4 linked regions of the Homo sapiens genome follow. The protein of the gene in region 3 interacts with the protein of the main gene of each other region in a biochemical or structural test. Each region holds a gene or a part of one and is shown on either strand. Other genes may lie near its edges.

Evidence for each region.
Region 1: the proteins of SNAP25 (region 3) and GOSR1 form a complex in vitro, tested with the Homo sapiens proteins (one study listed by BioGRID).
Region 2: the proteins of SNAP25 (region 3) and SRCIN1 form a complex in vitro, tested with the Homo sapiens proteins (one study listed by BioGRID).
Region 4: the proteins of SNAP25 (region 3) and KIF5B form a complex in vitro, tested with the Homo sapiens proteins (one study listed by BioGRID).

Annotation. Positions count from the first base shown.
Region 1 is NC_000017.11:30,522,406-30,528,118, reverse strand, and holds the end of GOSR1 (Golgi SNAP receptor complex member 1), read right to left. Parts: 3' UTR 527-5,713; downstream 1-526. UniProt on the Homo sapiens protein: Involved in transport from the ER to the Golgi apparatus as well as in intra-Golgi transport. It belongs to a super-family of proteins called t-SNAREs or soluble NSF (N-ethylmaleimide-sensitive factor) attachment protein receptor.
Region 2 is NC_000017.11:38,602,937-38,610,624, reverse strand, and holds the start of SRCIN1 (SRC kinase signaling inhibitor 1), read left to right. Parts: upstream 1-4,672; 5' UTR 4,673-4,919; coding exon 4,920-4,941; intron 4,942-5,906; exon of another isoform or gene 5,907-6,022; coding exon of another isoform or gene 6,023-6,146; intron 6,147-7,688. UniProt on the Homo sapiens protein: Acts as a negative regulator of SRC by activating CSK which inhibits SRC activity and downstream signaling, leading to impaired cell spreading and migration. Regulates dendritic spine morphology. Involved in calcium-dependent exocytosis.
Region 3 is NC_000020.11:10,221,811-10,228,838, reverse strand, and holds part of SNAP25 (synaptosomal-associated protein 25), read right to left. Parts: intron 2,162-7,028; exon of another isoform or gene 2,059-2,161; intron 1,553-2,058; exon of another isoform or gene 1,401-1,552; intron 1-1,400.
Region 4 is NC_000010.11:32,032,417-32,039,444, forward strand, and holds part of KIF5B (kinesin-1 heavy chain), read right to left. Parts: intron 7,016-7,028; coding exon 6,911-7,015; intron 6,411-6,910; coding exon 6,362-6,410; intron 5,803-6,361; coding exon 5,747-5,802; intron 5,192-5,746; coding exon 5,104-5,191; intron 4,963-5,103; coding exon 4,838-4,962; intron 3,579-4,837; coding exon 3,474-3,578; intron 3,252-3,473; coding exon 3,106-3,251; intron 2,423-3,105; coding exon 2,274-2,422; intron 1,623-2,273; coding exon 1,429-1,622; intron 359-1,428; coding exon 290-358; intron 1-289. UniProt on the Homo sapiens protein: Microtubule-dependent motor required for normal distribution of mitochondria and lysosomes. Can induce formation of neurite-like membrane protrusions in non-neuronal cells in a ZFYVE27-dependent manner.

The sequences.
Region 1 (5,713 bases), on a different chromosome or scaffold from region 3:
TGTGAAGGAAATGGAATATTCACACATTACTGGTAGGCACGGGCATTGGCACAATTGCTTTGGAAAAATGTCTGACAACATATCTTAAAACTGAGTATGTGCATCACCTATAATCCAACAATCTTATTCCTAGGTATAAGCAACAGAAAAGTGTACATGTGTGTCCCAAAACCCATGTTCGAGAATGTCCAGAGCAGCACAATTTGTAATAGTTCCAAACTAAAAATAAAAGCTATCGGTCTAGAATGGAATGACTAAATAGAATGTGTGTACTTATAGAGCGTGGTTCTCCACCTCTGGCATGCATCAGAACCGCTTGGAGGCTGGTTAAACTGATTGCTGGGTTCCACCTGTCTATCTACACAGAACCGACCTTATATTTCCCCGCTCAGCTGCCTTTATCAAAATTAAGGATGTCTGCTGATCACCTCTTGAATGTTCTCTCCTCTCCCACATCAGCAAGAGGGAAAAAAAGAGGCAAAAGAGGCCCGGTTTCTCGCTATTAGGACAAACCCAAGGATATCTCTTATGTCAGGTGAGCCCTGTACCCCTGGCTTTGCTGAGATGCTTATGAGCATTTCCTCACATAACCCTGACAATATAATCAGGGCACAATTATGGTAGCCATCCTTATCACCATTTTATAGAAGAGGAATTGATCACTGGCTGGATTAATTGCAAAGCTCTAAAATTAGACAGTGGGGCTGGTTGCACAACTAATGTACTAAAGCCCAGCAGTACACGATTTTTAAAAAATTAATTTATTTTTGAGACAGGGTCTCTGTCACCCAGGCTGGAGTACAGTGGCACAATCGTTGCTTACTGCAGCCTTGACCTCCTGGGCTCATGATCCTCCTACCTCAGCCTTCCGAGTAGCTGGGACTATAGGTGCACACCATCATGAATGGCTAATTTTAGTTTTTGTAGAGACAAGGTCTTTGCTGTGTTGCCCAGACTGGTCTCAAATCCCTGGTCTCAAGCAATCCTCCTGCCTCGGCCTCTCGAACTGCTGGGATTACAGGTGTTAGCCACTGCACCCAGCCAATTCTACAATTGTAGATTCCCATTATGCCTCCTGAAGTTTCATGTTAAGAGATTCCCCTTCACTTCTAGGGCTAAAATACTAGTGGACTGTTCATATGATGGTTTCTGAATGACATGTGACAGCTTTTCAGCACCTGTATTATTTCATCCTGGGTTTCAGGACATCATGAGAAACACTTATCAACACCAGAGATACCATAATCTCTATCCCCAAACTACCTTGATGGTTACTGTTTCAATATAAACAATTACAAATGCAATCATTTAGATTTCTAATTTATTATTAAATTACATACCAAAGCTTCTTCTATACAGTCAGAAAATGCACATTTAGATGAGAACAAAAATTAAGTACAAATACAATAAAATTGGTTCCAAGAAGCTATTTTAAAAGCAAAAACTTACAAAGTGCATTTGGAAAACAATAGGTTTTAAAAATCTGTATTGGCATTTTTTCAAGAGGAAACATCTTCCATCACAGGAAAGTATGGTTGGAATTGATTTCCCTCCTCCCTTAAGAGCTAACAGGGTGGGAATGGATGCAAATACCTTGATATTAAAGTGAGCTCTCAGGTATCTTTTAATTTTTTTTGCAGAGACAGAGTCTTGCTACATTGCCCAGGCTGGTCTCAAACTCCTGGCCTCAAACGATCCGCCTGCCTTGGTCTCCCAAAGTGCTAAGATTACAGGCGTGAGCCACTGCACCCAGCCCTATTGTCATGGTTTTTCATATTTTTTCAGTGAAATGAAAAGTTTTGAGTGGTTACTTAAAAGGACCAAAAAGGAAAGATTCATTATAATAAGACAATAGTTGAGGGGGCATAACTTCCCCTAAGAGGTAACATTTGGATCCAGAAGTAGAAAATTCCTTCTGACCTCCTGGCTGTGACTAGCATTAACAAGTAACTAACTGTTAGCCTCTGAATCTGGTAACTGGTCCGTAAGGAGGACAGCAAAAAAGGAGAGAAAGCCAAGGTGGTTAAACAAAAAAGTTAAATGACATGGAGCTGAAAGAGCTCAAATCCCTTCATGGGATCCCCACGGAGCCCCTTCCTGTGGACACACACCTCTCTTCCCTTGCTGGAGGTTTCTTTCTGCAAAGAAACCCTAAGAGGAAAAAGCACTGGCCTAGCTGTCTACATGTGGCCCTGGGTCACCTTAGTATAGGCTGCAGCACGGAGAGGTTAGTCAGACCTATCTGACACCAACATCCATACCAAGCCTTTTAACTTCCTTGGAAGAACTGGTTTATTTTCATAAAGAAAATAACCAACATAATTCCATTACTTCACATAAGCAAAACCCTAATGGAAAGGCCCATCAGCCATCAACAGGGTTTGCTTGGCTGCAGTGAGCTAGACTAGCTTGTGTCCCAGTTCACTCTCACACAATCAGCTTTAATGAATGCACAAAAGAATCAGACCAGTAAAAAAGACTGGTAGTATAATTAAATAAATAACTTTATTTATGATACTTCAGATTTTATAAATGCCAACTACATAGCAAAGTCCCATAAATTTTAACCGAGACACAACCACCAATCAAGGCCCTTTGAAAAATCAAAGATAATAAAGTGTCAAGGGAGAAAAGTTTTGTTCTCCCAACAGAGAATTTAATCAATGAACTTACTTCTCTGATCATTTAAGGTTCACAATGGGAAAACTTCTTTTCTTTTAAGGGTACCCTGAATCAATTAACAGTCAATCAACCCACATTTAGAAAAATAAACCCCATAGTTAAGAAAAATATATCAAATGCCCTTCACACCCATAATGTAACAAAACTTTGACACCAGAATGAAAAACTTCTCAGTCTCTGTACCAAACCAGGTGTTAGTCCACCCATGAGCAAGTTCGCCTGAATAACAGCATCTATACACCATGATGTAGCTGAGAACTACAGCTGATATCCTTTTATTGCCTGTGGCTCGGACTGAAGCCAATACTATAAATACCACAGTGAATTCCAATGGTGAAGAGCAGCAGTGTAGATGTTGGAAGTCTACAAACCAGGCTGTAGTTCAGTAAGACAAGTCATGAATTTACAGAAACTAAGAAATGGTTAACTCGAAAAGAATTCTGGTGGCTGGCTTAAAATCTGTCACTGTCCAGGGATGGTAACAGAAGACAGGTGCAGAGAGAGACAGATTCTGCCACATGCACCCTCAACAGTGAAACCATTCTCTGGATGTTTGGAAATGCTTAACAGATTTGGAATGAACAGATTTTCACAGAACTCAGGATTCCTGGTACATCAGGCAGTAGTCCTTAAACTTTTGCCCATACGTTGTGGAGCATTTACAAAAGCAATTCTCTGGACAGTGAGCCCTCAATGCCTTTTTATATGTGGCTTCTTGAATAGATCACATTAGAAATTGAGCAGTCCCCTTCCTCAGCTACCAGTGTCAATGCTGGTATGAGGAGGAGCAGTGGGGGCACTGACAGACACTGGTGATTCGTTTCTTTTATCATAGTGGAACTGAGATTTCATTTCTTTTCAGTAGAAAATATTAATCCAAGGGAAGAATTAAAAAAAAAATGGAAACAATGACTGGTGCCTTAAATATAAGACTGTCATTCTTGATGTTTTTCCAGCAATACAGTTAACCCCAGTGTACTTGTAATTTAAAAGAAAAAGACAGTTTTACAGTGATCTCCATTTCAGACAACCTCAAACATGCTGAAGCTGGTCCATCAGCATCTCAAAGAATCTATGAAAAACAGAATTTTCCCCAAATATCAACAGAGTTGAGGAGACAGAGTAGAAATCTATAGCACAGATCATCAAGAAAGAACTTGTGATTTCTCATTATGAGTGTAAAATAAGAGGACAAGAATTATTATTATATTATTTTTTTTTTAATTGATCATTCTTGGGTGTTTCTCGCAGAGGGGGATTTGGCAGGGTCATAGGACAATAGTGGAGGGAAGGTCAGCAGATCAACAAGTGAACAAAGGTCTCTGGTTTTCCTAGGCAGAGGACCCTGCCGCCTTCCGCAGTGTTTGTGTCCCTGGGTACTTGAGATTAGGGAGTGGTGATGACTCTTAAGGAGCATGCTGCCTTCAAGCATCTGTTTAACAAAGCACATCTTGCACCACCCTTAATCCATTTAACCCTGAGTGGACACAGCACATGTTTCAGAGAGCACCAGGTTGGGGGTAAGGTCATAGATCAACAGGATCCCAAGGCAGAAGAATTTTTCTTAGTACAGAACAAAATGAAAAGTCTCCCATGTCTACTTCTTTCTACACAGACACGGCAACCATCCAATTTCTCAATCTTTTCCCCACCTTTCCGCCTTTTCTATTCCACAAAACCGCCATTGTCATCATGGCCCGTTCTCAATGAGCTGCTGGGCACACCTCCCAGATGGGGTGGTGGCCAGGCAGAGGGGCTCCTCACTTCCCAGTAGGGGCGGCCGGGCAGGGGCGGCCGGGCAGAGGCGCCCCCCACCTCCCTCCCGGACGGGGCGGCTGGCCGGGCGGGGGGCTGATCCCCCCCACCTCCCTCCCGGACGGGGCGGCTGGCCGGGCGGGGGGCTGACCCCCCCACCTCCCTCCCGGACGGGGCAGCTGCCCGGGCGTAGACGCTCCTCACTTCCCAGATGGGGTGGCTGCCGGGCGGAGGGGCTCCTCACTTCTCAGACAGGGCGGCTGCCGGGCGGAGGTCTCCTCACTTCTCAGACGGGGTGGCCAGACAGAGACGCTCCTCACCTCCCAGACGGGGTCGCGGCCGGGCAGAGGAGCTCCTCACATCCCAGACGGGGCGGCGGGGCAGAGGCGCTCCCCACATCTCAGACGATGGGCGGCCGGGCAGAGACGCTCCTCACTTCCTAGATGGGATGGCGGCTGGGAAGAGGCGCTCCTCACTTCCTAGATGGGATGGCGGCCGGGCAGAGGCGCTCCTCACTTTCCAGACGGGGTGGCGGCCGGGCAGAGGCTGCAATCTCGGCACTTTGGGAGGCCAAGGCAGGTGGCTGGGAGGTGGAGGTTGTAGTGAGCCGAGATCACGCCACTGCACTCCAGCCTGGGCACCATTGAGCACTGAGTGAACGAGACTCCGTCTGCAATCCCGGCACCTCGGGAGGCCGAGGCAGTCAGGCGTGGCGGCGCTCGCCTGCAATTGCAGGCACTCGGCAGGCTGAGGCAGGAGAATCAGGCAGGGAGGTTGCAGTGAGCCGAGATGGCAGCAGTACAGTCCAGCTTCGGCTCGGCATCAGAGGGAGACCGTGGAAAGAGGGAGACCGTGGGGAGAGGGAGAGGGAGAGGGAAGAATTATTTTTATTCACAATCCAATCTGGCAGCTAAAAGAAAAGCAGTCTTTGGATGTAGAAACCTGGTTTTCTGAAGAGCCCAGCTGTAAGACCTGGCTTGTCATTAGGCTTCAACACTATCATGGAAACACAGAAAACTCTGTTTTTGATTGGTTTACCTGCCTCCTAGGGAGACAAAAGCAACTGAAAACCTTTTTTTTTTTTTTTTAATTAAAAACAGAAAAATGTGTTAGAAAACACAGCACAGAGAAACTGTGGCTTCAGCTCAACCTGACCATGTCACAGAGTCCATCACTGTCAGTCTTGCATTCATCCTGCTGGTCAGGCTAATTATCAAGACAGTCAACTTCTCCCTCCGATGTTTCCTTATTCCAGACCAGGGTGTGAAAGCGGTGG
Region 2 (7,688 bases), on a different chromosome or scaffold from region 3:
TCTCCCCACTTAGGCCCTGGGAGGTCACCCAGAGTGAGGTGGGTGCTAGGAACCCTCTCCCTTGCGGTTATTCTCCCCTCCTACAGAGAAAGGAGATCCACTGGCATCAGCAGCACCGAGCATGGACCTGGCACACAGCAGGGGATCAGGGATCCAGTTCCGGTCTCCAGTTTGGGCAACAAAAGTGAAACTCCATCTCAAAAAAAAAAAAAGAATTGTCAGGGTGGGGCCGGGCACGGTGGCTCACGCCTATAATCCCAGCACTTTGGGATGCTGAGGCGGGTGGATCACCTGAGGTCAGGAGTTCGAGACCAGCCTGGCCAACATGGTGAAACCCGGTCTCTACTAAAAATACAAAAATTAGCTGGGCATTGTGGTGGGTGCCTATAATCCCAGCTACTCGGGAGACTGAGGCAGGAGAATCGCTTCAGCCCGGGAGGCAGAGGTTGCAGTGAGCCGAGATCGAGCCACTGAACTCCAGCCTGGGTGACAGAGTGAGATTCTATCTCAAAAAAAAAGAGAAAAGAAAAGAAAAAAGAAATGCGAATTCTCAGGCCCCTCCTCAAATCTGTTGAATCTGAGACCTTGAGGGGAGGGGAGCAATCGCTGGTTTAACATGCCCTCCAGGCAACTGGGCTTTTCCAATTACTTTCAGAGCCACTGCCCTACCACAGGGGGAGCCCTGGCTTAATGAGGGGGGCAAGGTGCCTGACTCAAGGAGCTCCCAGTCTGATGGGACAGATGGAACCCTTGCCATCTGACAGGGAAGACAGCCTTGTGCTCAGGAAATTCCCACTGGGAGGGGAACACCTCGGCTTTTCACTCCAAGCCCCTACGCTGGTCCCTCCCTGCCAGAAGCAACGGGATAAGGTTCTCTGGAGGAGGCTGGCTACGGCTCCGACCCCAGAGAACCTGCCTCCACTTTCTGTCTCCATTCTTCAGAAAGCGGGTTTGATGTGCTAATGAGGGCATCAGTTAGGGAGCATCATTAGCATTCATTACAATAACAAGCAGGGAAGCGGGGAGGGTCTTTAGAAATTTACTGCCACTCACTCCTCTCCTATGGAGTGGGAGGAGGAGCAGGAGGGTGAGGAATGTGAGAAGGGAGGCTTAGGGGCTCTGGGAGACCAGGCTGTGTTCAGAAAGCCCCAGAAGCAGGCCTGGGGCAGCGGGAAGCACCCTCCTCCTCCTTGGCTCCTCCCCCACCCCTCTTGTGCCCCAGGTGCTAGGTCACTGCCCCTGGTTACTTGACCCAGAATAGGACCAGGTCCCCAGGCCCTCACTGTCTGCAGGCCACCCTTAGTGGAATGTGGATGGTTCCTTGGGGTCTCATGAAATGCCTGGCCAGACAACAGCCCCATGGACCGGGGGCTTTCTCAAGGATACTGGGCTGGGGGTGCTCCAAAGCAGCAGAGTGACCAGTTTGGGGTGTCCCAGCCATTATTTCCACGTCACCTTTTCCCTGTGCCTTCTCCTAGAGGCCCAGATGCCCTTCTCTGCCCACCCCAAGGCCCATCTCCCTTTGCCTGCCCAGATGTTTGTCCAGATGCAACCCCTGTTCCTATTGCATCTTGGGGAAGGAGAGGCAGGGCTGAGAATTCTCTCCTCTAGGGTGCACCCCCATAACCTCTCTCTCGCAAGCTCCCAGGAACAGGTGAGGGCTGGGTGGGATGTTTGGGGAGGCAAGGTGAGTGGTTAGGATCTGCTGTTCCAAGCCCCAAACATGCCAGCTGCCCCCTCCCCACCAAATACACTGCCAGAGGCACAGGAGAGGAGGACCAGAGGGAAGTTACCTGTTGAGGAATGAGAGCGGGGGCGGGGCGGCACCTGAGGCATCTCAGGTGGAGGCAGCTGGCAAATTGGTTGTGCCTGGGCACCATGCCAGCTTACAGGAGCAATTCTCATCTCTCAGCTGAAGTAATACCTGTGTTGCTTTTGCCCTGATCAGTGGAGATGGTGTCCCCAGCCTTCTCTCTCCACCAGGAACCCCTCCTTTTGAGACCTGGTGGGAGGAGGGAAAGGCACGTATTTTTCTTGGGGTCAATGAGGGGCGATGATGCCAGGCCATCTGTCCTCTGGCTCCACTTTCAGCCTTGGGACCTTGGGTTCTATTCAGGGAGCTGTATCCCTTCTCACCCCTCCAGGAGACCCATGGAGTCAGCTGGGCAGGGTGGGTGTGGACAAAGCATCTTTGGGGAAGAGAGGGCAGAAGGGTCTCAAATGAGCTGATAGCTATGAAGATGATCAGAAATGCTAAGGATTCATCATTAAAAGGTGAGCTATACAAATTAAAAATATTACATAAATCTGATTTAAGCTCCTCACTATGGAGGTGGCCTTCATGATGAGCGAGCTCACCTTAGGGCGGGTAAAAATGGATGCTTCGTTCTGCTGACACCTTTGGAACTGTTCCAATCCCTGGGGGCTGCATCACAGAACCTTTCCCACCCCACCCCAAGCCACTGGGGTTGGGCAGGCAAATCTCCACATGATGGCACAAGCATCTTTTCAATTGTCAACTAGAGGTAATGCCTCAGGTCACTCTCTCCACAATAGGACCAGATCCCTGTCTCCTTCCTGATTATGGCATGGCTATACATCTTAACTCTCAGCCACATTCCTGATCTCAGTTCTCTTCTAACGACTATATGGTTATGAGACTTTGTGTCCCAGGGGTTGTCCCTGCTGTGGCGACCCACAGGGTTATGAGATGATGGTGATAGAAGAAAGGCAGGGAGCTTTGACATAAGGCAGATGTGGGTTTGAATTTCAACTTTGCTGCTCTTACATTGGGCAATTGGCTATATCTCTCTGATAGGGGGTTGAAAATGCTCACTTCCATCAGGCTGTCGAAAGGGTAAAATTAGAGATTATGGTAGAGCACCTGCTAATTTTCTTCCCCTTAGGCACAAAGTGGGGGAGGGAAGAAATCTTGTCCCTTGGGGGGAATCTGAGTTGGGGGCAGGTGAAGGGCAGGAGTCCTGTGCAGTCAGTGGGTGAGGAATCTGAACGGAGGAGCGACCTGTGCCAGAGCTCTGGGCTCCCAGCCGCTTGGGAGGTGGTGTCCGTGTGCTGAGGGGAAGCTACCCTTGCCTCCCCTGAGCCTCCCCCACACAGAGCCTGCTGCCTCCCATGCCCATCCTGGGCAGGCAGCCAGGCAGGGCACTGGATGGATGCCCACTGTGCGCTCAGAGGCCAAAAGATGGGCACCATCCAGTTGGCAGAGGGAGAGGCAGTTGGCCCAGGAGGGAAGAAGTCAGGGTGCCTGCCGCTGGGGTCGTGTGCCCAGACTGTGTGTCCAGGACACAGCTCTTGGCTGTCCTCCTGATCTGTCCCACTGGAGCTGGGAAGGGCCTCTCCTCTGGTCCTGGCCCTGGCATCTGAGTTACTGCAATTGGTTATTTATCTCTAAGGGGAATCTGGGACCTTGTCCCTAGCTGGGCATGTGGTTGGCTCAGGGGCAGGCCTGGGGGTGGATAGGAAATTGGGAGAGCCCAGATTAAGGTTGCAACTGGGTAGACCAGGAAGTGGGGAAACCGGTTTGTCATTTGGGCCACTTGGGGTGGGGTCTCCTCTCCTGGGCTCTCTGCCTGCCTGCCACTCTGCCTGATGGCCCACAGTGAATAGAAGTACTGTGTCCACTCTCTTGCTCACCTAAACTGCTTTTGGAAACTCCAGAAGTAAATAAAAGGGACAGGGGACTCAGCCCACCTTCTCCTCCGCAAGAAAGCTTGAGAGAGAAGGGACTGGCCAGAGCATCGGAGCGAGGGAGGGAGGGGGCCGCTGGAATCACGAGGTGTCGGCGCGGGCCTGGGTCTGGGTCTGGGTCCGGGTCAGCGCTGGAGAAGTCTGCGGAGCCAACAGGTAGGCCAACGAAGGTGGGACGCGGAGGGGCGGGGGACGGCAGGGTGGAGCCGAGCTAGTGCTCTGCGGGCTGAAGTAGAGGCGGCAGTGACGCCGCCAAGCGAGGCGTGAGCAGGGACCGTCGCTGGAGCGTCCTACGGTGGGGTCTCACTGGCCGGAGGGGCGCGGACCTGCCTGCAGTTCCCGCGCACGCCTGCAGGAGGGGCTGCAACCCGGAGCGGGGGCGAGGCGGCGGCCCAGCAGGGGGCGCCGGGGAGCCCAGACCCTCCGACCGAGCCGCGTCTAGGCGCGCTGGGGTGAGGGGTCGCGAGGCAGAAGCAGAGGAGGATCCGGGCGCTCCCAGCATGGGGCGGCTGTTGGTTTCCGCGGTCACCTTGGCTGAAGGGAGCCCCCAGTCTCGCCGCCCCGCCTCCCCACCCAGCCCCGAGAGCCTTTCCATCCCTAGGCGCGCCCGGGCTTGGAGACCCAGGAGTCCTCCACCCTCCAAGTGTCCCCGCTTCCCCGGGTGCCTCCTCCGAGCCGGTCCTCGGTCAATGTATTTGTCTCTATCGTGGCGCGAAGACTACTTGGGGTGGGACGAAGCAGGTGGCGCGGGAAGGAGAGAGTGAGCGCGCCCCGCGCCCGGCCCCGGCCGCGCGCTGCGGGATCACGCGGTGAAGCTGGAGGGCGCGAGAAGGCGCAGTGCCCCCTCCCCTCCCCCGCCCCCGCCGCCCCGGGCGGCCCTTTGTAAGTTCCGGCCACACGCGCGCGCCCGCGCCGCGCGCGCGCCCGCCCGCAGTGACACACCCGCGCCGGCCCGCGCGCGCGCAGACACACACTCAAACACACACACACTCGCTCTCGCACACTCGGTGACACGCCCGCGCGCGCGCTCACCCACACGCCCGGCCGCCGGCGCCCTCCCAGCTGGTCCACCCCGGCGGGGCCCGCGCCCCCGGCCCGCCCGCCTGGCACCGCGCCCCGGGGCTGGGGCCGAGCGAGGAGCCCGCGAGGCGGCGAGAGGGCGAGCGCCAGGCAGGCCGGCCCGGGGCCCCCGCCCCCCGCGCCCCCGCCCGATGGGGAACGCTCCGTCCCAAGGCATGTCCCTGTCTCTCTCCTCCCTAATGTGCCTCCATGCTTAAGTGGAAGGTATTTCTGTTTTCTTTGTGTGTTTTCCCCCTCGGCCGGGGGCGGGGGCGGCGGCCGGGCCGGGGAGGCGGTGGCCGGCGGGGCGAGGGATGCTGGGGCGCAGGTGTGTGGGGGCAGGGGACCGCTGTGCGCCGGGCTTGGGAGAAGGACCCGGGCGAGAGGAGTGCTGGGACCAGAGAAGGGGGCAGGGTGGCGAGGCAGGAGACTGGGTGGGGAGGGCCTCACTACGCCCCGGGGTGGGGGCCAGAGGGGTTCAACTGTAAAGGGGCTTGTGTGGAAGGGGGAGGGGTGAGGAGAAGAAGGGGGATGGATGGTGAGGAGGGTGGGGGGAGAAGGGCGTCCCTCCGAGGTGGGGGAAGTGGAGGATGCAGGGGAGGGGAAGGGGATGGAGAAGTGAGGGGTGCATCAAAGGCCTCCCTCCCCCAGCTCCCAGAATGGGGTGCACGGGCTAGGATGGTGGTGGTGGGCCCTTTGCGCCAGCCTCCAGGGAGGGAAGGGGATGAGTGCGTTCTGGGGTTGGCCGCGTTGCCAGGATACAAGCCTGTATTCCACACACCCCCCCTCCCCGCACCTCGAGGCCCTAGCCCTGGAGACCTCTGAGCCTCAGCAGCAGTTGCAGAAACTGGGGACCAGCTCCCCGCTCTACCAGCGGGTAGGGAGGGCCACGAGAGGGAGGGGTTTAGGGAGGGGCTATTTGATCTTAACCCCTCCCCCTGCAGAGGCCAGGGGGCAGGGGAGGGCGCCCCCAGCTGGGGAGGGCATCTAGGGTGAGTGAGAAGATAGGGAAGGCAGGCGGCTGAGGGGTGGAGGGTGGGGCTGGGAAGGGGACGCACCGTGGCCCCCCCTCCCCTCCCACGCACCCCCCTGCTACGTCAGAAGCTCCCGGGCCAGCTCCGAGTCCTGTCGGTGGGGGCAGCAGGATGCTGGTGGAAGCAGAGGGGACAGGCCGGGTGCCTCCGCAGCTCAGCTGTCAGGGCCCGGCGGGGCGTGTGCGGCTGCTGGTGCTCGTCCCCCAGCCCCACGCGTCCCCATGCAGCCCTGGCAGTGCCTCCGGCGCTTTGCCCTGGCCTGGTGGGAGAGGACGGCGGAGGGCAGAGCCCGCTCTCCCAGGGAGGAGGCTGGACCGAGGGACCCTGGGGGCCGAGGGGAGCCAGGTGAGCAGGCGCGGGGAAGTATGCAAGGAGGGGGATCTTCCCAGCCCCCCTCCTCAAATGTTGTGGGACAAGGAGGTCCTGCAGCACCCCAACTTTAAGGAAAGTGGGCTCCCCGAGCTGGGGGTGGGGGTTTCTGGCAGCAGCCTTTCAAAAGGAGATGGAGGAGCTGCTGTCTGTTTTGGGGAAGGGAGAAACAGGTGAGGCTTGGGAGTGAGGGAAGCTGACCAGACTTCCAGGTTTGTGGGCCTGAATGTTCCTTTGGGTGGGGTTTGAGCACTTTTGGGGGGTCGTCAGGATACCTTCTTCCCGACTCTTGGTATCTTGGTCTGGGTGACCTTGAGCCAACTGCTTTGCTGTCTAATTCCTTGCCTCAGTTTCTCTTATTCCCATCCCTTTCCCTCTTGTTGATCTTTAAAAATTGATGATGCATTTGATGGAGATTGTGAGGCTGTCGCCACTGGTGGCAGCTGTGATGGTGGTGGTTTCTGGTGTGGTTGTATGTGGGGAGCAGCTATGGTGCATTTGAGGGGTTTTGCTGGTTCTGGTTGGTGATGGGCCACTCCATACAGGTGTCAGGGACATGGGAAGGAACATTCACACAGGAAGGAGTGCTCCAGGCAAGCTGAGAGTTGCTGGGGACAGAGACTTAGCTGGTGGCCTGGGGTAGAAGCAAGGGATGGGGTGAGGGCTCTGGGCATAAGGGGAGGGTTTCCAAGAATAAGATGCACCCCCCCTCCACCCCGCTGTCCCCACCCAGACTGCCTGGCACCCAGGCACCACTGGCAGCAAGTGCAAAGGCTTTGCCCTGGCTTCCTGCCACCCTGCCTTGGGGACAAGAGGGTCTTTGTCCAGTCCCCCCACAACAATTCCTGCTTCTTCTGCCCTTTCCACGATGGCTGGTTCTCTGTGATGACCCTCAAGGCTGGGATGGAGGCACAAATCCCCCTTCTGGCTCCCACTGTCTGTGCCCTGGAGCTCTATCTGGAAGAGGCAACTGTGGTCCTCGGGGAGTGCTGAGTGGAGAGGGATGCTCCACTAGGGGAAGGGTCGCTCGAATGAACCCCTCAAAGAGCTACCCCCACCCCAGGCTTTCCCCTGCCCCTCTACTTGCCTCCTTGCCTAATGCGGAGGGTCTGGGGTCTTCGTGGCCTCATCCCTGCTGGGTTCCAGGCGTCTTAAAGATGTGCAGGATACTGGGTTGGGCACTGGGATGCAGGGCCTCTCTGATGCACTCTCGCGCTCTCTCTCTCTCTTTCTCTCTCTCTCCCCCTCTCCCCCCTCCCTTCCCTGTCTCTCTCCCTCTTCCCTCTCTCTCGCCAGGGACCCACCCTGGAAAAAGGGTTTAATTAGAACCATTGATTCCTTCTTTGGCTGTGGGCATCGACAGTGTGGTCAGAGCTAGAGGGTGGGGGTGGCATGGCTGCCATCTGCCTATGCCAACCTTGGAATTCTCTGCCAAAACCCCAGCCCTGGAAGTGCTTAGGAGGGAGGCGGCTGGGCTCTTTGAAGTACCCAGTTTGTTGAGCCCCCACCCCCACCCCA
Region 3 (7,028 bases):
GGCCTTCATGTAACCTATAATAAAGAACCCTGGAAATCTGGTATGGCAAATAGCAGGTAACTGAACATAACAACAGTCCCTTCCTCTTTCTCAGAGTGGTGGAGGTAACTACTTCACAAGCATTAGCTCCTTTAGGTCTCACGACAACCACTTGACATATATGCATGGCAGCAATTGCTCTCCTTTTACAGATGTAAATAAAAGTGAGGCTCAGTTCAGATTAGGTAAATTGTTCAGGGTTATACAATTGAAGTGGCAGAGCTGGCATGCAGCCAGCTGACTCTCCACCCATTGCTCCATGAACTTGTTTGGACACATAGTTTCTCTGGTCACTTACACCACCATATCTCACCTGGCTATTTAGCTTGGAGGACTCAGCTTTTTAGATTTGGCTGACTCACGTTCTATGTATCAGCAGTGTGCTTTCTGTTAGAGGATCTCAATGTATTTTGTGCAACTCATGGGATAATTTATGGGGTGGTGGGGAAAACCATGGACTTTGCAGTCAGAGACAAGTGTTCCGAACTCTTTTAAGGCTGCCATGGAAAATAAAGGAAACAACATACATCAAGTGCCCAGTGCAGCACACAGTAGACATTTAGGAAGTTAGTTACTTTTTTCCTTGTGGTCATTAAGTGGTAGTATCTTCAGTCTTCTCTGGAGAAAGTTGGATGCAGAGTAACCCGTGTTTTCATGAGAAGGAATGGGGAAAAAAGATATGCAAAATTCAATGCTCAACTGGTGAAGGTTTTTTTCTAAGGACAAATGGGACTTATTTACCAAATCATGCCCAGGCTTATGATTCTCTCCCAGGCAAGAGGACACTGACTATTTGAGAGGAAAAGCCCAGAGACTGGTGTCTCTGAAGGACACTTTTAAGGAAGCGGAATTGACATGAAAAACTTGTGTCCACCATGCCAATTCTAATAGCACAGCAGCAAATATGTGACCCTGAAAACACAAGTTGGCCAAAGCCATAAATCTACCCCACTGGTGAATGTAATATATGTCTCAAATGGATGTATGAAATATCCTTTTCATCCTAGTGAACAGTAAAACATTTAAACTTATAATTCATATATGCTAAACTGCTTGACTTTAAATGCTCTTAGTGAATGGCTTTTAATCTCTGAATATAAACCTGATTTTAGCAATGCCTTTATTGAGAATCCTTTGATCCTTCGTTAGCATTTTAACTCCTGACTCATAAGTGATAAAACAACAGATTAGAATATTATACCATTTGCCATAGTTTGGCAGCTAGTTAGGGTAAACCTAAGTAATTCCTTGGGACATAATTTTATTCCAATATTTAGGATGAATCTATGTGCAAGGGTACACAACAATTCCTGAGTTATTCTGATCATAACATTTGATCAATAAAAAGCAGGATTACTTACAGTGGTAGAATTCTTTTCTCTGCAAAGGGGTAGCTGGTATCCCCATTCGCTCACTTATTTCCTGCATACATGGGTGTGGCAGGCACTGTTATAGGTACTGAAGATTCAAAGAAAGCTAAGATATTACCCTTGCTCTCAAAGACTTCCAAAGTCTATTAAGAAAGAGAAATACATAAGTAGGTAACTACAAAGCAGTGTGATCAATCTTACAAGGGAGATAGGGGCATTGCTCATTGGTAAGAGGTGAATTTCTAGAAGTAGGAGTTTGGGAAATTAAGACATAATTCTACTTGATCCAGAATCACTACATAATTCTACTTGATCCCGAATCACTGAACTTTGTTTAATGACAGGAAGTTTTCAGAGGAGGAAAGTGGATTGGATTGGGAAGTACTCTCATCCAAAGGATCCTTTCTTAGTCAACCTATTCTTGCATTGCTCCATGAGTTTTGGAGTTGGGAATAGGATTTCTGGCCCAGGAGGTACCATGTTTCTTAAAGCTTGACCCCTTCCTCCCATGAGCGGCAGAAAGTGGTCTCTACAGGGAGAGATCCCAACAGATTGGGATACTGGAATATAGTCATGTATTTAAGGGACATTTTAGTGACATCCTAGTTGATTGCCATGTAAATAGAGACAAGTTCACACAAAGACATACCTTAGATATTTACTGAGTTCGGTGATGGCTGAGGCTGGTTCTTAATATGTATTTGTTTATGATATAGCAATCTCTCTGTAGATACTGACAGCTCAGTAGAAACCTTCAATAGATTGTATATTTTGATTAGAGAGCCATAGCTCTTTTCTACATTGAATTAATGTCTTAGATTCTAAAAGGCATCCCATTGAAACATGCCTTTTAAAATAATGACACCTCAAGAGGGGACACCTAGCATAACACATGGAGGGCAGAAACATGATGATTTTATTTACAGCTCTGACTTTAGGAACCAGTGTATGTTTTCCTGGTACATGGCAGGTGTTCAATAAATATTTGTTCAATGGATTAATTAATGAAGAATGCCATAATAGCAGCTGATTTATGATGAAGCAATACATGGGCAGTGATCATGGAATTGGAAAAAGTAGATACATTCAGCAATTTCTCTGGCATAAATTAGGAATGGACTTTCCCATTAAAATAAAAAATTCACTCAACAAGGCTAATGCGTATTGAAATAGTTTGCCAGTGTTCTTCCTAGCAGTCTTTCTGGCATTTATTTCTGTGCATTTTCTGTTTATTGATAGAGAAGTCACAGTGTGATTTACCTATACCTAGCTGCCAGACCAACTTCGGAATAACTGCAGGGAAATTTAAGAAATTCACTGTTTTGGAATTTGCCAGTTATTATTCTTTGAAACTGTACCAAAGATGAACATAAATAAAGGAGATTAACAACTTGGTCTGAGACTCTTCATGGAAAGGGAACTCTGTCCAACTTGCAGGATTTTCAGAGCTCAACTGAGAAAATTCTCTGAAAAAGGAATGAGGCAGGAGTGTAGGGCTGAACTCTGGCCTCAGGGGGGCACCTAAGAGACTTTCATTTTTTTACTTGCTGTTATCAGTAAAGGACAGAAACCACTGATTCAAGGTTACAGGCATGGAAAGTCATCTCTCAAGTTCAAGATCTGTGACTAGTGTCATTTGAATAAAGGAAGTGATGGGGAAGCTGGGACCAGATGGTCATTTTGTAGAACCTGCCACTTTGGAGGAAAATAACCTTTTTCTTTAAGTAAAAATGGACCACCTTGGAAGATTAAGACACAATGAGTCAGCAGAAAGTGCCAACAGTCTCAATTTAAGACATGAGAATTAGACATCTTTGAGTAATATGAACCATATCAACAACAGCAAAGAAGAGGATGAAATATATTTTTCCACAACCAAAGAAAGCAAGCCATAAGCCCAGTACAGCTGTTATTCAGCATCATTCGGGAGCAGGCATCATTTGACTGAATTTCTCTGGAATCATTGTTAAGCATTTAGAAGGAAATGCTAATCCTTAAATAGGATTTCCCCCCATCTCTTTTTAGGGATACAGATTTGTTCTTACCAGTAAGTCAGTCACTGCTGAGGTTGACCTCTGTAGTCAACAATAAGAAAATCAGTTAGGATTTCCTCTTGTGATACCATGTTTTACCTTGGTGGAAAGACATTGAAATCTGCAGTAGGTTGTGACAAGGCGAATGTGTTTTTTTTTTTTCCCCTCCGGGACATGTGAATTTATTTGATGTGTGACTATGAATTTAATTAATCAACATTGTACCACCAACTGCTGACCTCTGACCTCATAGGCTTTAAAGCTTCCTTCTCTCCTTGTCCTATGTTTTTAAAGCTTTCCTGTGATGTCATTTTACCCCACATCCTCCCAATGTGATTAGTTTTTGAGCTGGCTATCAGTATCATGAGATTCAGGTCACACAGGAATGTTACTTTTAAAGTACTTTACAGCTCACAGATTCTATAAAAGCTTCTGTTTCCTCTTTGCTAAGCGGCAGAAGAAGTAAGAGGATGAGTGAGGGAACTGCAGCTAATACATTGCTAAGTCAGACACACGAGATGATCAAGAAGAGGTCTAGAAAGAAATTTATACAAAGTTTAGGCAGGTTGTAGGAGACAGTATGTGCTAGATAGCTACAAATCTGATTGAGAAGGACAGGAGATACCCAAAGCAGTGATGACTCAGAATAGGGCTTTGAGGAAGAAGACAGGATTTCTTAACTCTGAGAAGGCTTCAGAAAGATGAAGGCAAGCAATTCTGAGGGGGGAAAAAATAAGGATTGGGATGAGGGAGGCGATGAATGTAATTAATCTTCCAATTGGGTCCAGATCAGTTACTGAAGCATTATTAAGATGATGCCAGCTGAGGCCATCGGTCACTAGGCCAGGACCCATTGCCTGGGGTTTTCAGCACTGATTTCATTGATTTTTGAATGGTAGGGATATTGGACATCATTAGTCCACTTCTATCATTCTGCCAGTAAAGAAACCAAGTTCAACAGTGGTGCACTGACTAATTTAAAGACTGTGTAATTCCAAACAGGAAATTACAAGCAGTTGTTTCAGGGCTAGAGCTGGGTCTCCTGGCTCTGACCAGCATCCTTACCTTCAGGCCTTGCTACCCAAGTGAGGAGGAAAAGACTGCAAAAAAAAAAAAAAAAAAAAAAAAAAAAAAAAAAAGACATGTACATTCTCTATGCCTTATTTGGCCAATATGAAAAATATGGATGATGCAAGAGGTAGCATAAAATACACTTCATAGCTTAATCTCTGGAGTCAGACTGATTACATTTAAGTCTTGGCTCTGCTCTGCGACAAGTTACTTACCCTTGCTGTGCATCAGTTATTTCATCTGCGAAATGGAAATAATAATAGTAATCTGACCACAAGGTTGTTAGGAGGATACAGTGAGCCAGTATAGGTAAACACTTTTAGAATGAGTGTCACATTCTTCCCCATAAGCCCATTCTGATTAATCACTGATTTGGGTATCTCTGTCATTCTAAATCAATTTATGTCTTACTAAATGTGATCTAATACTATATCTGAACATATGTGTCTGTGGGTTGCACTATTTATTTAGAAATCAGAAATTCCTTGGACTTTCATATTGGGTGAAGTGCTTGAGAGTCTTGTGAAGAAAATTATGTAGAAAGAGTAGGTATTATTGTTAAGGCAATAATAGCAATTCTGAGGAGTTCACAGTGTAGCTGGGGTTCTCTAGAAATTTCTATGAAGTCTTTTTCCTCTTGTAAGACTTTTTTTTTTAACTTTTTGTCCCCTCATCATGTCCTACTTCCTCAGTGCTATGTCATATCTCCTTCCTTCACCTTACTTGATGCTTGTGTAGCCCCTGGACTCAGTTTAATAACCACCAACCTGACCTCCTAAAGCATCAAATGTCACTACCTCTAAGTTTCCCCTAGGTAGTCAGCTTGGATATAAAAATGTTATCCTGTGGTGTCTCTACTGCCAGTGTTTTAGTGAAGAATAGATGAGGATAGTCTCTTGATACCTTATAGCCAGAAATGAAATGGCAGTAAAATCTGTATCTACCGTTGCCATTTCTTCCTCTACATGAACCCACTGACTATTTTGGCTTAGCAATTCTGTCAGCATTTGGATTTTTGAAGCTCTTCTGTGAGAGTAGTAACCACAAGGTTAGAAAGGAAATGGGTGTAATCCAGACCTCGAGGTAGCCCTGAAGTGAGGGTAACTAGCAAGAGTCAGCAAAATAGGCAGGGAAAGAAATCTGATATACTACCCATTCCAGTTTTTCAAAATTCTACCATTCCATCTTTTTCCTCCCATTTTTAGCCACTTGGGGCTGGTCCTATATGTCATGCTGCTCAAAACATGCTCAGAAGAAATGACAACTTTTTTCATTCCTCCCGTCAGTGCACTTGACAATGCTGAATATTCACAGAGGGCAAGAGAGTGTTCAGCACCATGTTTATTATTCAAGTGCACCTTCTGGGACCTTCTGGGGTGTCTCATCACCAGATTCTTGACTTTCTTTTCAGTCTGCCTGGCAAGTGCTCAACTTGCATAATTTCATTTAGTCAATAATGGAAAATGGAAACTTGCAATTAACTTCCAAGCAGGAATTATATGTCTATGTAGGTATATGTATCCTGAAAAGTAGTCTTAAAAGATGCTTCAGTAAGGACTGATTTTTTTTCATTAACCATCTCTTATGATACCAATTTGCTCCCCTCTACTTCTGGAAGAATGCAAATTAAATCCACTCTGTCAATAGTAATTTCTGGATATTAAAAAGACCTGGTTACTTTGTTATATCAGCTTCTGCTCAGAAATCAACTTTAGAGGATAAAGTACCAAATTCTCAGCTTGACATTCAAAGCCTTCCACAGAAGGCTCCAACTCTGCATCCCAGCCTATTCCCTCCAAGCTTCCCACTCCACCCAAATCAATGGGCATTTTCAGGGTTTGCCAACTGTAGAGTGGGCTTGCCTAACTTGATATTCTGCATATGTTGTGACTTCAGCTTAACAGAACTCTCCCACCTCTCTGCAACCTCCAAAAGCCATCTCAAGGCCTGCCTCTTCTCTCAGATTGTTCCAGTCCACTGCGATATCGCCCTCCTGATTTTATGTTACTTATTGTTGGTTACATTCACTTGGAAATTAATCACATATGTCCTCAAAATTTGTCTTCTAATGTTTTATTGCATTTAATTCTGGTTTTATTTATTAACTTATTGTTTATTGCTTTTATTAAGATTGCTAGATGCTAAACTTATTGAGGTCAAGACAAAACCATGAAATTTTATAACTCCCATGGGATTCATTTCTGTATCCGGTGAATACCGATTGATCAGTATCTTCCTATCAGGTTGGTACTTGCTGACAAGGGATGACATTGCAGAAAGTATCCAGCGCTGAGGCTTAAAACACAGATTTTTCCTTCTTTTATAGAATTGTAAAGCAGTCCCATAATGTGAGAAACATTGTTTATTCATAGTGAATTATCTAAAAAGCATATTTTCTATTTTTCTCCTTCATGTCTCCTCTCTCAACCTCTTTCTCAGATTATTTTTCTCGTTTCTACTAATCGTCAAAACCTACGTGTTATGCTGAAGGCTGACTGCTTACGCAGCTTCTAGG
Region 4 (7,028 bases), on a different chromosome or scaffold from region 3:
TATCCCCCTGCTCTGCTGGGTGAGAAGATAAAATGAGGATCCAAAGTAAGTGACAAGAAGAGAAATGTCAAGAACCAGGGTGAAAAAAAAGATGGCGGAAATGAACAACAGATTGTATCTGGGTAGATACGATGAATAAGTAAAAATTCACTTTATCCATGTGACATTCTTATTCCCACAAAGACAGTCATACCCAAAATTATACAACTATTAAAGACAAAGTCAATGGGATTCAGAAAACAAAACTATAAAGCTTTTCTGGAAGCAATGTAAAAGGTATTCAACTCACCTCCTCCTGATCCAACATTTGCGTCTTCAGTTTCTCTACCAGTTGACTTTGCTGGTTAATTTCTTCATCCTAGAATTGTGAAGTATCCGGTTAACCAGTAGCTAACAACCTGGTTCTAGTTGTTTCCCAATACAGGTTATAAGATTACTACTCCCCAGAAATATTTCAAAACCATTTCTCTAAATTCAACATTGCTTATTTTAATCTCTTTTAAGAAAATGGCAAAACAAAAGGAATTTCTTTCAATTATCAATACTTATAATGGTCATGTACTTCGAACCTGCCATCTCTGCTTAAAATATATTAAAAATATCAACTTAAGAAAATATTTTCTTCTAATCTCTTTACTACTCTTGTTCTTGCCTTCCATTCTATTACGTTCTTAGTTTGCTATTATTCATACTATTGACATTACTTCTATATGCAAAGCAGGAAGATATTATTTCCACTCTATTGTGTTTCCCTTAATCTCTCACATCATCTTTTATTGGAGTCTTCAGAGCCCTGATTCTAACAATTGGTATCATTGAGGCTCCCAATGACCCAATGCCAAATTTTCATTAGAACAGGGGTCCCCAAGCCCCCAGGCCACAAAGCAGTACTGGAAGCCTGTTAGGAACCAAGAAGCACAGCAGGAGGTGAGCAGCAAGCATTACCACTTGAGCTCCGCCTTCTGCCAGATCAGCAGCATTAGAATATCATTAAGAGCGCGAACTCTATTATCAGCTGTGCATGCAAGAGATCTAGGTTAGAGGATCCTTATGAGAATCTAATGCCTGATAATCCAAGGTGGAAGTTTCATCCCAAAACCATCTCCCCGACCTGATCCACGGAAAAACTGTCTTCCCTGAAACCAGTCCCTGGTGCCAAAAAGGTTGGGGACTGCTGCCTTATAAAGTTCTTTTAGCTTAAAAAGAGGGGGAAGAAAAGATACATGCTCATACAGTTTCCACACAGAAATTGAAATTATGACTTTTTATTTTGTTAATACAATAATTTTTACAAGATTAACAGAAATCAAGGAAGATGCATAAAGATCCTAAGTGCCCACAGCACTGAAATGAGAAAAGTTAGAAAATAAAAACACCCATGTCAATAGTATCCTAATATAAAGCAGACCTAAATCAAGCAATACCTACCTTGTCATCAAGCTGTTTGTATAATTTAGCAATTTCTTCTTCACACTTTCTTCTTTCAGCATCAGTAAAATTTCCTATAACTCCAATTGCGGTTGCTGGTTTATCATTGGTAAGAGTAATATCTTTATCCACTGTGAAAGCTTCCAAGTTGGCTTTCTCTTTGTCAAACTGTTCATCAATAGGCACCGTCTCCCCTAAAATAAGAAAATAAAGTGGTTAATAAAAAAACGACGTCTAAAGCTAATTTCAATTTCATTCCTTTAAAAATTTTTTTTTTTTTTTTTGAGACAGAGTCTCAATCTGTCACCCTGGCTGGAGTGCAGTGGTGCAATCTAGGCTCACTGCAACCTCTGCCTCCAGGGTTCAAGCAATTCTACTGCCTCAAGACTCCTGATTAGCTGGGATTACAGGCGCTCAGCACCATGCCAGGCTAATTTTGGTGTTTTCAGTAGAGATGGGGTTTCAACATGTTGGCCAGGCTGGTCTCTAACTCCTGACCTCAAGTGATCTGCCCACCTTGGCCTCCCAAAGTGCTAGGATTACAGGCATGAGCCAGTGCACCCAGCCTCGTTCTTTCAAACTTTTTCTTCTCTGTGTTATTTTCAAATAATCTGTCTTCAAGTTCAGATTCTTCTGCTTAATTAATTCTACTACTGATGGTCTCTTGCATTTTGCTCATTTTATTTTTCAGCTCCAGGATTTCTATTAATTTTTTTAAAAATTATTTCGATGTCTATTAAATTTCTTGATCTAGTCACTTACTGATTTTGCTGAACTATTTCTACGTTTCTATGCTCTAAATCTGTATTTAACAAACTGAAGATGACAAATTCTTAAGTTATTACCATTACGCCATCTGTTGAGCTCATTTTCAAGCCACTGAATAGTGTTCCGCAGGATCTTATTTTTTTCTTTTTCTTTTTCATACTTCTTTTTCCACTGTTCTGCAGTTAACTCCACATTGACACAAACTGTGTTCTTAATTGTTTTGGCCCTAAGAGATGTAATTGGAGGAAAAAAAGGATGAGACTGAAATTATTTTTAATTTTATCTATATGGAATATATGTATATATGGCTAAGAAACTTATGCTTGTCCAGTAATCTCTTAGACTAAATACTAAAAGCCGCAACATATGACGTTATTTACAACTCAACTAAATTTGAGTCTGCTCCAAAATCTGTGAATAGCTTTAAAAAAAAAAAAATCAACAAACCACTAAAAATAAAAGACAAAGGCCTATATTTTTCCAATTTGTTTGCAAGGCTGAATTAAGAAATTACTGTTGAAAGTCAAAGACGGAATCATCATTACTGATTTTCCTAATCATCTCATACAGATTATATTAACCTGTCATGCATGTCTACAGGCTTAACAGAGGATTATGTTTGCCAGGCTTTGACCTCATTATTTGATTCAAATGCTTATTTTCTTTAATACCAAATTACAGCTTGTCACACAAATTTGACTAAAATTACATCTGACTTTAATGTGTACTAAAACTTAAACCAAGCAGTCTAAAAATCAGACCCACCTTGTATTATCTGTCATCAATTCAAACTGAGTGTGTCTAGCACAAAACAGTATGTACAGGTTGGAATAACAGCTCACATTTTCCTACATTTTATAAACAAAAGGTCTATCTAAATTTAGGTTTTGTACTTTCTTAACAACAAACCTTTGGCCAAATAAGAGTGTAGATTTTGTTTCAGACTCATTGTATGATGATGGAGAGCAGCAAATTACAATAGTGGTTCTACAGTTGCCACCTAATGAATCTTGAAGGATTCTTGTCATTTTACTATCTCGATATGGAACATATGTCTGCATACAAAAACAAAGAAAGAAAACAAGACCAGTATAATAAAATGTTATTATAAAATAAACTCCCAAAAGACAACTAACTTACACATACTGATTCAAACACATTGAATCTCAATCTCTCTTTCTCTCTCTCTCTCTCATACACACCCAGGCACACATATACACCTATATTTAAATAATGCCCCATAAGGTAACAGGGAGATAGAAGACATGTATACTCACACTACCCTCAGCCAAAGCAGAAATAACATTTCCAAGAGCAGAAAGTGACTTGTTGATGTTTTTAGCTTCATCCAGCACAGCACCTTCAGCTCCAGTTTTACTAACCTATACATAAGATTTCAAAAGAATGAAACAAAATTACAAGTTTATAATTTTCTTTACATTTTCTAAAATGTTCATATGTCATCAATAACCAGTAAAAAAGAAAAAAGAACATGAAAAGCTTCATGATCTTATTTGCCAAGCATACCACCATTTCTTGAGTACTACTCTTAAGAGTTTGATTAGAGAGACATCAAATTTTATCTGTAGTTTGTAGGTACTCTTGAAAATAACCAATTTAAATGTAAATTTGTAGTTCATTAATCTGTTAGTCCCCTTTGCTACATTAGAAAACAGGAACCTTCTAAAATTGGCTAATGCATAATGTTGATGTTGTAACTGTTAGAAAACAGAGACTGAGTTTTAAACACATTATATAAGCAAATCTGCTTCTTTTAAAAATATATAAAATATCTAAATATCTATGTTGTGGTGTTTTTTTTTTGGAGACTGAGTCTCACTCTGTCACCCAGGCTGGAGTGCAGTGGCTTGATCCCAGCTCACTGCAACCTCCGCTTCCCGGGTTCAACCAATTCTCCTGCCTCAGCCTCCCCAGTAGCTGGTATTACGGGCATGTGCCACCATGCCCAGCTAGTATCTATGTTAAAGATAGGTCAGAACAATAAATTAGCAATGTTGGCTGAAGAAATAGCTTAGGAGATTTCTCAGATTAGATAATCTTTGAAAGATGTGTGTAAGACTTCAGAGTAGAACGGAATAGATATATCATTCTAAGCAGAAGAAACAAAATTAGCACAACAGCAAAAATGGTCAGAGGTCCCTATTATAACATTCAAACTTAATTTGATATAGACTAGAATCAGACTGTATAGAATTGTAATAATGAAACAATAATCCAAAGGAAAGAAATAAGTCCAACCAAACCAGAAAAGACTAATCGAGAGTTACCAGTTTTAATAGGGACCCCACTGCCAATATGGATAAAATACGTATCAAAAATTAGAAAAGGGATATCTAATAAAGTTTATAACAACATATGCTGAACCAGTTCTCACTATGAACATATCTTAAGTCATAGAAACCACTTATGGGTTGAACTAGAGTATGGTCAAACAACAGTAACTTGGAACTGATTATTCAGCTGATATCATCATAAGGCACTGGCATCAGCGGTTACAAATCTCAGGTTACCAAATCCAGTTTGGTAAGTAAGATGCAACAATGAACCCTGCGTAACTCCCAACTCAAACTAAAGTTTACAAAGATGCTTAAATATTTGTCAAAATACATGAAGACTTTACCTTTTCACTACCAGCTAAATCAACCAGATAAAGTTTTCCACTCAGCTTTTGTTCCGTTTGTGTGTTCTCTTGTTTGACATTAATAAGAAATATACTGTGACTCCTAGAGCTATGTTCATTCATATCTGCAAGGAAATTACACAAACAAATATAAACAAACATGATTTCCCCTTAACAATTTCCCTGAAGCAATCTTATAATTAATCACCTGGATAAGGATATTTTAAGCTGGTTTTAAATCCTAACCAGTGTTATTTTCTACTTACTTGTAACTGCTACATGTCTGTTGGATTTTCCTTCATCTATGGTATCCATAACTTCATCTGGACTACATACAAAACGCTCTGTGCACCCCTGTGAAATAATTTTTAAAAATATGTTAATGTCTGGCCAACATGATGAAACCCTTTCTCTAATAAAAACACAAAAATTAGCCGGGCGCGGTGGCGGGTGCCTGTAATCCTAGCTACTTGGGAGGCTGAGGCAGGAGAATCGCTTGAGCCTGGGAGGCAAAGGTTGCAGTGAGCCGAGACCATGCCATGCACTCCAGCCTGAGCAACAGAGCGAGCCTCCATATATTAAATGAATTGGCTCACGCCTGTAATCCCAGCACTTTGGGAGGCAGAGGCGGGCGGATCACGAGGTCAGGAGTTCAAGACCAGCCTGGCCAACATGGTGAAACTTCGTCTCTACTAAAAATACAAAAATTAGCTGGGCGTGGTGGCGCATGCCTGTAATCCCAGCTACTCAAGAGGCTGAGGCAGGAGAACTGCTTGAACCCTGGAGGCAGAGGTTGCAGTGAGCCGAGATTGCACCACTGCACTCCAGCCTGGGCGACAGAGTGAGACTCTGTCTTAAAAAAAAAAAAAAAGTATTACAGGGTTTTCTAGACAACTGTACTATAAATACCTTTACATAGGGAACTCGGTTTTTGTCTTCATGAACTGAAAGGTTGGTCTTTGAAACTGAGAAAGAAAAACAAATGTTAGCAACATTCTCCTAAAACTCTTAACACTGGATATGAAATAACTGATAGGCTTTCCTGAGCAGCCTAACAGCAATAGTTGAACTCTAAAAACATATTAAAACATTGCTCTAAAGCAGACCTTACAGACACAGCAGGAGATGTAAATAGAAACCAATGCAACAATATAGAATTTTAGGACCACTCCAACCTACCACCCACATTTTATAAACAAGAACATTAACCCTGAATGGTTCAATGATTTGCCTAAGGACAATGTATCTAATTGACAGTTGACAGAAGACTAGAACTCAGGGCTCAGATTATGTAACTCCCAGTCCAATGCTCTAATTACTACTAAGAAGTACCCATAAACATCGCTTTAAACTAGTTATTCTATTTAAAGGTATTCAACTAAAACTTTAGAAGAAAAAAAATTTTGTCTATTTCCAATAACTTAAGACAATTTCATATAGGTTACAAAGAAATAGTCTCACATCTATTATTAAAAAGGAATTAACAGATGTTATTTAAAACTGATTAGCAAGAATTTAACTTACCATCTAACAGGTCCCTTATCTTATCCAAATATATTTCAAAATATGAAACCTAAAGGGCAAATTTAAAAAAACACCGATCAACTAAAGTTATATAACTTATTCGCATATTGAGGTCTGAGTGCTAGGCATTGTTTAGACTAGAGAGACAGTTATCAACATACCAGCCATAGCTCACATTCTAATGGGAAGACATAAATTAGCCAAATTAGCTTAGTTATTTAAGCAGTCTTCCCATTGGACATAAATTACATTATCTTCATCTAAAATGAATTAGAATAGTTTTATGTAGTAGAAACCTTCAAGTTCTGCAGTAAAGCAACCTCCTTTATTTTTTGAAGGAGGCTAAAGACTTAATCATTTACGTTAGTTAACATTCCTGTTCATCTAATGGCAGATGAACAAAAATCCAAGTTTACTAACCTGAATGATCTTTCAACTGTACCTTTCCAGAAAAACAATTTTTAAAATTAAAGAAACCAGCATTTACTATTTTTTTAGAACATTATTCTTGCTGTAAAATAAAATATAATCTTTCCTCAAGGAATTTACCTTAATATGAAATTCCAAATTTTCATCCATGGAGTAAATATAATTAAAAATATCTTGCACTATTCTTGGAATAATTCCCATGCCTTCTGGATCATGAAGTTTACCCTAAACAAAAAAC